Regions from separate parts of the Homo sapiens genome. Here region 2 is linked to region 1. Evidence: fine-mapped expression QTL. A gene starts in region 1. The other region holds a variant in brackets. All regions are shown on one strand. Distances are between the middles of the regions.

Region 1 (5,000 bases):
GAAAAGCTCTTGAAATAGTCCATTCTGGCGGGGTGCGGTGGCTCATGCCTGTAATCCCAGCACTGGGATGGTCAGCCCGAGGCCAAAGTGGGCAGATCACTTGAGGCCAGGAGTTCAAGACCATCCTAGGCACCATGGAGAAATCCTGTCTCTACAAAAAACAAAAATGAGCGGGGAGTGTTGTCCTAGCTCCTTAGGAAGCTGAGGCACAAGAATCGCTTGAACCCGGCAGGCAGAGGTTGCAGTGAGCCAAGATCACTCCACTGCACTTCACCCTGGGCGACAGAGTGAGACTACGTCTCAAAAAAAAAAAAAAAAAAAGGCAATTTTGTTTGGCAAATTCAATAGCATTCCTTTGAGAAAATTGGATCCCACAATCAGAACTAAAAATCATCACTACAGTCAAGCTTTTAAAAAAGGAAAAAGAACTATTTAACCAGATGCAAAGGTATACGTGACAAAATAAAACAAAAATTTAATGGTGTTACTATTCAGTGTCAGGAAATGAGCTACAAACCTCACATCCTAAAAACTCTTCAAGTCTTTTTGAAAAATACTATGTCATTCCTTCAATAATTAGTTATTTCGCCTCCTTTGATCACCATGTATTTAAGCAGGTGTGCTAGGTGCTTGAGAAACAAAAATAGGACACATCACCTGCCTTTGATAAGGTCCACAGAAATAACGCCAACGCAGGCTGAAAGCTAAACTCCTTGTCAGTCTCAAGAAGCCAAGGACCTATCACTTGCACCCTAGAACTCCAAAAGGTTCACAGAGTCGAGGTGAGGGCGCCCAGGTCACTGCTCGGGTGCTAGAGTTAACAGGTGGCCAAATGCACGTATAAACAGCAGTCTAAGAAGGAAACTCAGACGGAAAAAGTGTTGCCAACTGTCACCTACATCTTCCCAACCCCGCCCCCCAATCCTTTTTATAAATAAACGGAGGGTTTTTGAAGGGAACTGTCCAAGGTTACAACCTGATACGGAGGAATGCTTTGGTTTGGGATACCAACGAAATTGTTTATATATTTATTGAGTACTGCCACACAACATCTAAAAGTTGACAAAGTGTCAACCAAGGCACATAGAACATAAAATAAGACGTCTTTCTCAACAAGATTAAAACGTCAAGAAGAAACTGACCGAAAGAGGGAGATCTCTAACTTCCCAAAGCAAGGCAACCCCCTGGAAAGGTACTGGAACTAGCGGAAGTTACATATCCAGGGCAGAAGTGTCCCCCTCCCCAAGGGTAAAACTTTGAACCGCCATCTGACTATCCCACGGTGGTCGGAAACTTCCCTCAACAAGAAGCAACCAGACACCCAACAATCTCCGCCCTTGGCCAACCCCAGGTGTCCTCAGGCCAGGCTGCCGCTTCCTCCCCGGGCCCTGCCTCCTCCATCTCGCTCCCTTCCCAGGACACTCAGTAGCCGGCCTCGGCTTCCAACGCCGGCCTGGCTCCCGGGGTACCTGGAGGCCGCCGGGATCGGTCCCAGGGGGCATCGGCCTCAGGCCCGCCCTCCAGGAGGCCCGTCGCGCCTCTAGTCCCCGACCGGGCCGCGACCCCGCCCCGGCCGCCCCCGGAGACGGATCCCGCGGCCCCCGCCCTGCCGCCGGCCTCACCTCCTCAGCGTGCTTGCGCAGCGCCTTCTCCCGCTCGTACTGGGTGATGAGCTGCTCGTTGTCGTCCCGCAGCAGCTCCAGCTCCACCTGGTGCTCCTGGTCCTGCGCGAACACCGAGTCCAGGTTCTCCAGCACAGCCACCACCAGCGGCATCAGCTCTTTGACCACCTCCTCGTCATAGCGCCCGATAAGCCGCTCGAACTCGCGGTAGATGGAGCCGGCCAGGCCGGACACCCGCTCCGACATCACGGCCCCGGAGCCGCCGGGCTCCTCCTGATACACCACACCGTCCTCCAGCTCCATGGTGGCAAGCGGACGGGCGGGCGGCCCGGGGCGTCGCCGGCAGAGGGGCGGCACCTGCCCGCACGGGACGGACCCGACTCGGGCTGGGACGGGTACTAGGGCTGGAGCCCGGGCCGGGGCTGGGGCTGGGCCCGGCGGGGTGGGGGCCGGGGCCGGAGGAGGGGAGGGGTGGCGTAGGCGCTCTCACCCCAACCGCCGCTGCACCAACTGCCGGGGCGGCCCGGCCGCGCGCGCCACACGTCATCCGCGGGGCGGGGCCGGCGCCGCGTCGGCCCGATGGGCGGGGCGCCGCGGGAGGCCAGGCGCGGCCGGGGGCGGGGCCAAGCGTCTTCGGGCGCTGGCGGAGGAAGCCATGGCGTCAACACCCGGCGCCGCGAAGACGGTGCGGGCGCCAATGGGAAAGACTGCGGTCGGCGGGTGGGGAGAAGTATCCATCCACAGCGGGATTCGCGGGGCGGGTCCCAGGGGAAAGGGAGGGGTTCGGGAAGAGTGACGAGTTAACTTAGCTGGCATTTCTATGGCTTTTTAAAGCTCACAAAGCACCTACTCACTTCATCCCCACAACAGGCGTAAAGAGGTAGATATTTGGACCTCGTTTCACAGACAAAGAAACTAGGCCCAGGAAAGTGGCGTTGCTCTCAAGGTCACGCAGCTACAACGGGAAACGGGCTGAGCCGGGACTCAAACCAATTACCCAGATTGAGAATTCCGGGCTCCGAAAAAAACTGGAAACAGAAAGGGAGGGAAAAAAAACCATAACCAGGGTCTGCCCAAGTGGAAAGGTGGTCTCGAATAGAATAGAACTGTTTTGTGCTATGGAAGAGCAAGGGTGAGATGAGGGGAAATGGGAGTGACTGCTAATAGGTATGGGATTTCGTTTTGGGATAATAAAAATGTTCTAAAAAATGTATTATAGTGATGAATACACAACTCTAAATATGCTAAAAGACATTCAACTTTACACGTTAAGTGAGTGAATCATATGGCGTGTGAATTATATCTCAAGTTATTAAAAAATAAACAGGAAGGGTGATAGCATTCTGGAGAAGGGTGAAACTGGAACGTTACATGTGGCACTTTCCCACATAGTGTGTCTGCTACTTCTGGCCAACTTGGGACGGGGACATTTCCAGGCTCCAGCCACCCTCCTCTCCTCAAGTCTTGAAGTGGGGCGGAAAGGGTAAGTGGGAGGTTGGGGAACAGAGGAGGTAAGGGGTGGAGTCACTGGAGTGAATAAGTCCCATGACAAGTGAGGTTTCTGCCGCCTGGGAGAGTGTCACGTGTGGGGAATGACACAACGCCCACGCCTAGAGCGGGCTGAGTCAAGGATCCCGGTGTGCTCATCTAACGTCCGCAAATGGGACGGAAGACACTCTCAAAAGTCCCTTCTCTGTGTCTCAGGTGACTCAGCTCTCCGTCCCGACTCGTTTAAGAAAAGGGGGAGGAAAGGCAGGATAAACATAGGTTTAAGGGGAGAATTGGCCACCCACCGGGATCATAACTACCCTTAGCTTGGGGTTTACAAGTTTAAGTACTTCCCACCAAGTATGAAGTAGTCCCCTAAAGTTTCCTACGCATGACCCACCTGGAGACCCATAAAAACAATATGAAGGTTGGGCAAGAGTAAACCTATAAATTTGGAAGGACAAAGATGAAAATACTAAGTCTTATGAAGTGCCAGATGGGACTGAATTTGCGGCCTGTGTTTTTTCCCGTTCTCACCCTCACCCCACATTCACCCTTATGTCATTTAGATATTTGGGTAGTAGGAATGCCGACCAGCTGGTTGGCTGTGAGCCGCAAATGCCCTTTCTCTTCTTAACCTTTCATATTTGAAAACTAGAAAAAGTCTTGATCTGAATCTCTCCTCTTTTATTTTCTCTTCCTGAGGGCTGTCACTCACCTGGTCTACCTATATGCATGCCTCTCTTTTCCTGGGGGATCAGAAGAGCCAAAAAACATAGGGCAAGGCTTTACTTTTTCTTTCCACAATATTATCATACACATCAAAAAATTTAAAGAAAAAAGTATCAGCCGGGCGTGGTGACTCATGCCTGTAACCCAGCACTTTGGGAGGCCGAGGCGGGTGGATCACAAGGTCAGGAGTTCAAGACCAGCCTGAACAATATGGTGAAACCCCATTTCTACTAAAAAGTACAAAAATTAGTCGGGCATGGTGGTGCACACCTATAATCCCAGCTACTCAAGAGGCTGAGGCAGGAGAATAGCTTGAACCTGGGAGGCGGAGGTTGCAGTGAGCAGAGATCACACCATTGCACTCCAGCCTGGGCGACAGAGTGAGACTCCATCTCAAAAAAAAAAAGAAAAAAGAAAAAAGTATCGATTTTTCAAGTACGAGATTTTAATTGTCATTCCTAATAAGTATACTTCTTTAGGTATACGTTCAACATAGAAAGATACACACTTATGTCTTGATTTTAAGCTTCTGCCAGTTATCAGAGATAACATTTAGTTAAAATAAAATTCAGCTAAATAACCATCAGCTGATGAATGGATAAAATGTGACATAGGTATACAATGGACTATTATTTGGCAATAAAAAGAAAGTCGTTGGAGGGGAGGGGAGTAGGCGTGGTGGCTCGCGCCTGTAATCTCAGCACTTGCAAGAGGATGGCTTGTGCCATGAGTTGGAGACCAGCCTGGGCAACATAGTGAGACCTTCATCCCTGACAAAAAAAAAAAAAAAAATTTTTTTTGGCCAGGCACGGTGGCTTACACCTGTACTCCCAGCACTTTGGGAGGTCGAGGCGGGCGGATCACCTGAGGTCAGAGGTCAGATGTTCAAGATCAGCCTGACCAATATGGAGAAACCCTGTATCTACTAAAAATACAAAATTAGCCGGGCGTGGTGGCCCGCACCTGTATTCTTAGCTACTCAGGAGGCTGAGGCAGGAGAATCGCTTGAACCTGGGAGGCGGAGGTTGTGGTGAGCCAAGATCGAGCCATTGCACTCCAGCCTGGGCAACAAGAGCAAAACTCCGTCTCCAAAAAAAAAAAAAAAGAATAGAAAAGAAAACAAAAATTTTAAGTACATGCCATGACATAGCTGAATCT
Region 2 (5,526 bases), 96 kb before region 1:
CAGCCTGACAAACATGGAGAAACCCTGTCTCTACTAAAAATACAAAAAATTAGCCGGGCATGGTGGCGCATGCCTGCAATTCCAGCTACTCGGGAGGCTGAGGCAGGAGAAACACTTGAACCCGGGAGGCAGAGGTTGCAGTGAGCTGAGATCGCATCCAGTCTGGGCAACAAGAGTGAAACTCCATCTCAAAATAATAATAATAATAATAATAATAATAATAAATCAGGGTTAGGGTAAATTAAGTGAATTTATCATTCACTAAATGTATGACCTTGGGTAAGTAATGTATTCTTTCTAAACCTTTGTTTTATCATCTGTAAAATATAGATAACAGTATCTACTTCTTAAGATTCTTATTAAGTTATTCTACATTATGGCTTAGCAATGTGTTTCACACATACTAAGAATTTAAAATATTAACTATTATTATAATAGTAACTATTTGTATAATTCTAAATACATAATTATATATTTTTATAATTTATAACTATTATAATAGTAACTATTAGTATAATTATAATACATAATTATATATTTTTATAATTTATTAATTTATAATATTTTAATTATAAATTATATATACTATATATAATTCCCTTAAGGGAGTATCAGCAGGAATTATTGCCACATCGATTTAGCTATTGATGCTGAAGTGGTAGCTTTAGATCCACCTTGGCTAACATCAGAAAGTTCAACCTACAAATAGAAGTAATTTAAAAGAAATTTTAATTGAGTAATTTATTCTAAAGTACTTTAAAAATTGGTTAAGAAATAAATTTGCCCAGAGAAAGTCACAATTTTTTTAAAAGGCAATAAAGAGTCACCGATTATCAATAAATAATCTCTCTAGCTCCTCTGCAAATAATTGGGAAATATTTAAGTAAATCGTATTTTTCCAGGCGTACATGAAATTCTTCTTTTTTTTCTAAGACAGAGTCTCGTTCTTGTCACCCAGGCTGGAGTGCAGTGGCATAATCTCAGCTCAATGCAACCTCCACCTTCCAGGCTCAAGCGATTCTCGTGCCTCAGTCCCCTGAGCACCTATGATTACCGGCGTGCGTCACCATGCCCCACTAATTTTTTGTATTTTTGGTACAGACGGAGTTTTGCCACGCTGCCCAGGCTGGTCTCAGATGCCTGGCCTCAAGCGATCTGCTGGCCTCAGCCTCCCAAAGTGCTGGGATTACAGGCGTGAGCCATTGCGCCCAGCCGATTTTTCTAAATAGAAAATTTGAAAATACAATACGAAAGGCATTAGCAGCCAGGCTCGGTGGCTCACGCCTGAAATCCCGACATTTTGGGAGGCCCAGGCAGGCGGATCACCTGAGGTCAGGAGTTTGAGACCAGCCTGGCCAACATGGCGAAACCCGTAATCTACTAAAAACACAAAAATTAGGCATGGTGGCAGGTGCCTGTAATTCCAGCTACCCGGGAGGCAGAGGTTGCAGTGAGCTGAGATCGCACCACCGCACTCCAGCCTGGGGGATAGAGCGAGACTCTCTCCAAAAAAGGAAAAGCATTAGTGATAAAATTACACACTGATGTCAACATCATTTTAATGGCAGTTGCAATACTGTATCACTATTAATTACAGTATATTGTACATATTAATTATAATATATTGTACAATATATTTTACACAACATATAAAAATAAAATAGCATATCCATGTTAAGAGTACAATACTTTGGCCAAGCGTGGTGGCTCATGCCTGTAATCCCAGCACTTTGGGAGGACGAGGCAGGCAGATCACCTGAGGTCAAGAGTTCGAGACAAGCCTGGCCAACATGGAGAAACTCCGTCTCTAAATCAGCCGGGCGTGGCGGCACACGTCTGTAATCCCAGCTATTAGCGAGGCTGAGGCAGGAGAATCACTTGAACCCAGGAGGCAAAGGTTGCAGTAAGCTGAGATTGCACCATTGCACTCCAGTCTGGGCAAAAAGAGCAAGACTCTGTCTCAAAAAAAAAAAAAAAATTGTACAATACTTCATGTATGCCTGTAATCCCAGCTACTTCGGAGGCTGAGGCACAAGAATCGCTTGAATGGCCTGGGCAACACAGCAAGATCCCATCACATAAAACAATAATAATGTATTGTACACTTAAAATTTTTAGAGGGTAGATCTCATATTAAATGTTCTTACCACAATAAAATAAAAAAGGCTGAGGCAGGAGAATCGCTTGAACCCAGGAGGCAGAGGTTTCAGTGAGGCAAGATTGCGCCACTGCACTCCAGCTTGGGCAACAGAGCAAGACTTCATCTCAAAAAAAAAAAAAAAATTGGCCAGGTGCAGTGGCTCACGCCTGTAATCCCAGCACTTTGGAAGGCCGAGATAGGTGGATTAGTTGAGGTCAGGAGTTCCAGACCAGCTTGGCCAACATGGGGAAACCCCGTCTCTACTAAAAATACAAAAATTAGCCAGGCATGGTGGCACATGCCTGTAATCCCAGGTACTCAGGAGGCTGAGGCAGAGGAATCATTGAACCCAGGAGACGGAGGCTGCAGTGAGCCAAAATTGTGCCACCACACTCCAGTCTGGTGACAGGGTGAGACTCTGTCTCAAAAAAAAAAAAAAAAAAAAAAAAAAAAAATGCTATTTTCTTGAATTGGTAACTGGCACCCAATATAAAATATAAAAGTATCTGATAGAAACCTACTAATTCCAGCAAATTCATTTGTTTGGAGTTGAGTCAAAAAGACTGACAGTATTAAT[TA/T]AAAAAAAAAAAAACTGACAGTATTTAACACCTCTGGAGCCAAAGAGATTGATAGTGAAAACAACTACAAGTCCCTCTGAGCACCATTTGCATTGTCTTTGCTTTGATGTATACTCGATTAAAAAATAAGTGGTATTTGGCTGGACACGGTCGGCTCATGCCTGTAATCCCAGCACTTTGAGAGGTTGAGGTGGGCATATCACTTGAGCCCAGGAGTTTGAGATCAGCCTGGGAAACCTGGTGAAACACTGTCTCTACTAAAAATGCCAAAAATTAGCCCAGCATGGTGGTGCACGCCTGTAGTTCCAGCTACGAGGAATGCTAAAGCATGAGAATCGCTTGAACCCAGGAGGCAGAGGCTGCAGTGAGCTCAGATTGCACCCATGTTATCATGTACATGAATTCTCATTCTTTAAAAGTTTCAAACGTAACACACATTAAAAAATATAAAATAAACAGTCTGTATTTCTGATAAACAGTGTTGATGAAAGCACTTAAAACCCATTAAGACGGCGGATTCAGAAAGCCCTAGAGAATATTGAGTTCATCTATATGAGAAAGTGATATGCCTTTGAAACTATGTCAAAAATAAATAATTTGAGGTCAATCTTGGAATTCTCATTTACCTCTTAAATATAGAGAAATTATTTCTTCTTCCTCCTTATTATTCCAGTCCCCCACTCCCCACAAAAGGCAGGTTATTTTCACCTCAGAAAAAATTGTATTTAGTAATTTAAAAGTTCACAACATATGAAGTGTGGCAAAGGCCTACTTTCCAAATTCATTTGTGGATCTGGGAGCATGAAATAAAATAACCAGGAGACAGTCTAGATATCATGGGGTGAAAAGAGAAAAAAAAAAAAAAAAAAAAAAAAATAACCAGGAGAGAGCTGAACCTAAAACAGGAAAGGGACCATGATACCTCAGCAATCCCAAGGTTTCAGGCTACAAGGAAGTGGTTAATTTAGATCTACTTAGAAGAAAATTATGTTTTAAATTTATCCTAGGCTATCCAAATAAAATGAAATTTACTTATATGTAACTTACTTCCCTTTTATACTTACCACATAAAAATATTTTACACTCTTTAAAATAGCCCAATGTGTGGGCTATATTTCTGACAACTAGATCCCAGAGATACAGCATGAGAGCTGAGAAGGGAAAAGCTCTGATTTTAGGGGTTGAGCCCTTTTCTTTTTCTTTTCTTTTTTTTTTTTTTTTTTGAGACGAAGTTTCGCTCTTGTTGCCCCAGGCTGTAGTGCAATGGCGCAATCTTGGCTCACCGCAACCTCTGCCTCCCAGGTTCAAGTGATTCTCCTGCCTCAGCCTCCCGAGTAGCTGGGATTACAGGCATGCGCCACCATGCCCAGCTAATTTTGTATTTTTAGTAGAGACGAGGTTTCTCCATGTTGGTCAGGCTGGTCTCGAACTCCTGACCTCAGGTGATCCGCCTGCCTCAGCCTCCCAAAGTGCTGGGTTTAGAGATGTGAGCCACTGCGCCCGGCCGGGAAACCATTTTTGAAAGAGGTCTTTCTTCTTGGTATCCCAGGCAGTGGTGACATAAAGCTTCTAAGATTAGCAGAAAAGCACTTAGATGGGAAATCGGACAAAGTATTTGGCCAGGGGCACAATATTCTTGCATTATACCTCACTAACTGCCTCCAACTAAAGACAGAATGAGGCTAAGCACAGTGGCTCATGTGTGTAATCACAGCCCTTTGGGAGGCCAAGACAGGTGGATCACTTGAGGTCAGAAGTTTGAGACCAGCCTGGCCAACATGGTGAAAACTCATCTCTACTAAAAATACAAAAATTAGCTGGGTGTAGTGGCATATGCCTGTAGTCCCAGCTACCTGGGCGGCTGAGGCACGAGAATCACTTGAATCCAGAAGGGGGAAGAGGTTGCAGTGAGCCAAGATCATACCACTGCGCTCCAGCCTGGACAACAGAGCAAGACCTTGTCTCAAAAAAAAAAAAAAAATCATTGACCTGTTAAAAATTAAAATATACTACTTTTGGTCAACAGTACACTCATAAGATAATACGATCATGTGCCACATCTGCATAATGACATTTTGGTCAATAATAGACAGCATACAGCATATATAGTGGTGGTCCCATAAGATTAAAATGAAGCTGAAAAATTCTTGTTGCCCAGTGATGTTGCAACTGTCATAATATCCCAGTGCAATGCCCTAGTGTGTTAACAAAACTATTGCACTGCCAGGTGTATAAAAGTATAGTACATGCAATTCTATACAGTACATAATACTTGATAATGATAAACAATTATGTCACTGGTTTATGTATTTACTAAAATTTTCATTGTTATTTTAAAGTATACTCCTCCTTCTACTTAAAAATAATAATAAAGTTAACTATAAAACAGCCTCAGGTAGGTCCTTCAGGAAGTACTCTAGAAGAAGGCACTGTCATCATAGGAGGTGATAGCTCCATGTGTGTCATTGCTCCTGAAAACTTTCCAGTGGGACAAGATGTGGAGGTGGAAGATACTGACATTGATGATCCTGACCCTGTGTAGGCCAAGGCTAATAATATGTGTGTGTCTTGGTTTTTAACAAAAAAGTTTAAAAAGCAAAAAAAAAAAAAATTTTTTTTAAATAGATAAAAGCTTATAGAATAAGGATATAAAGAAAATATTTTCATAGAGCTATACAATGTGTTTGTGTTTTAAGCTAAACATTATTACAAAAAAATCAAAAAGGTAAAAAAATTTAAAGTTTATAAAGTAAATAAGTTACAGTAAGCTAAGGTTAATTTATTATTGAAGAAAAAAATTAAATAAAT

Alleles and levels. Alleles are on the strand shown, and positions count from the first base shown. SD is a standard deviation of normalised expression in the study named.
As copies of T replace TA in region 2, the expression in naive CD8 T cells of the gene that starts at base 2,137 in region 1 goes up (moderate effect, 0.53 SD a copy in Schmiedel 2018).

Evidence for each region. PIP is the estimated chance that this variant, and not a neighbour inherited with it, causes the effect. A credible set is the group of variants that fine-mapping cannot tell apart.
Region 2: its variant is the best candidate, but not a certain one, in a credible set for the expression of SPAG9 in naive CD8 T cells (Schmiedel 2018, PIP 0.79).

What each region holds. Positions count from the first base shown.
Region 1 is chr17:51,118,732-51,123,731 of GRCh38, forward strand. It overlaps SPAG9 (sperm associated antigen 9), which reads right to left and starts at 2,137. Exons shown (of 30, transcript NM_001130528.3): 1 at 1,623-2,137. The coding sequence starts at 1,925. RefSeq lists silencers at 1,390-1,519, 1,540-1,619, 1,870-2,249 and enhancers at 1,650-1,769, 2,059-2,873, 2,390-2,619, 3,229-3,488.
Region 2 is chr17:51,022,752-51,028,277 of GRCh38, forward strand. The region is part of intron 6 of SPAG9 (sperm associated antigen 9); the gene reads right to left. Among named protein-coding and RNA genes, the nearest start is that of SPAG9, 95 kb to the right of the region's middle. The variant TA/T (reference allele first, on the strand shown) is at 2,718.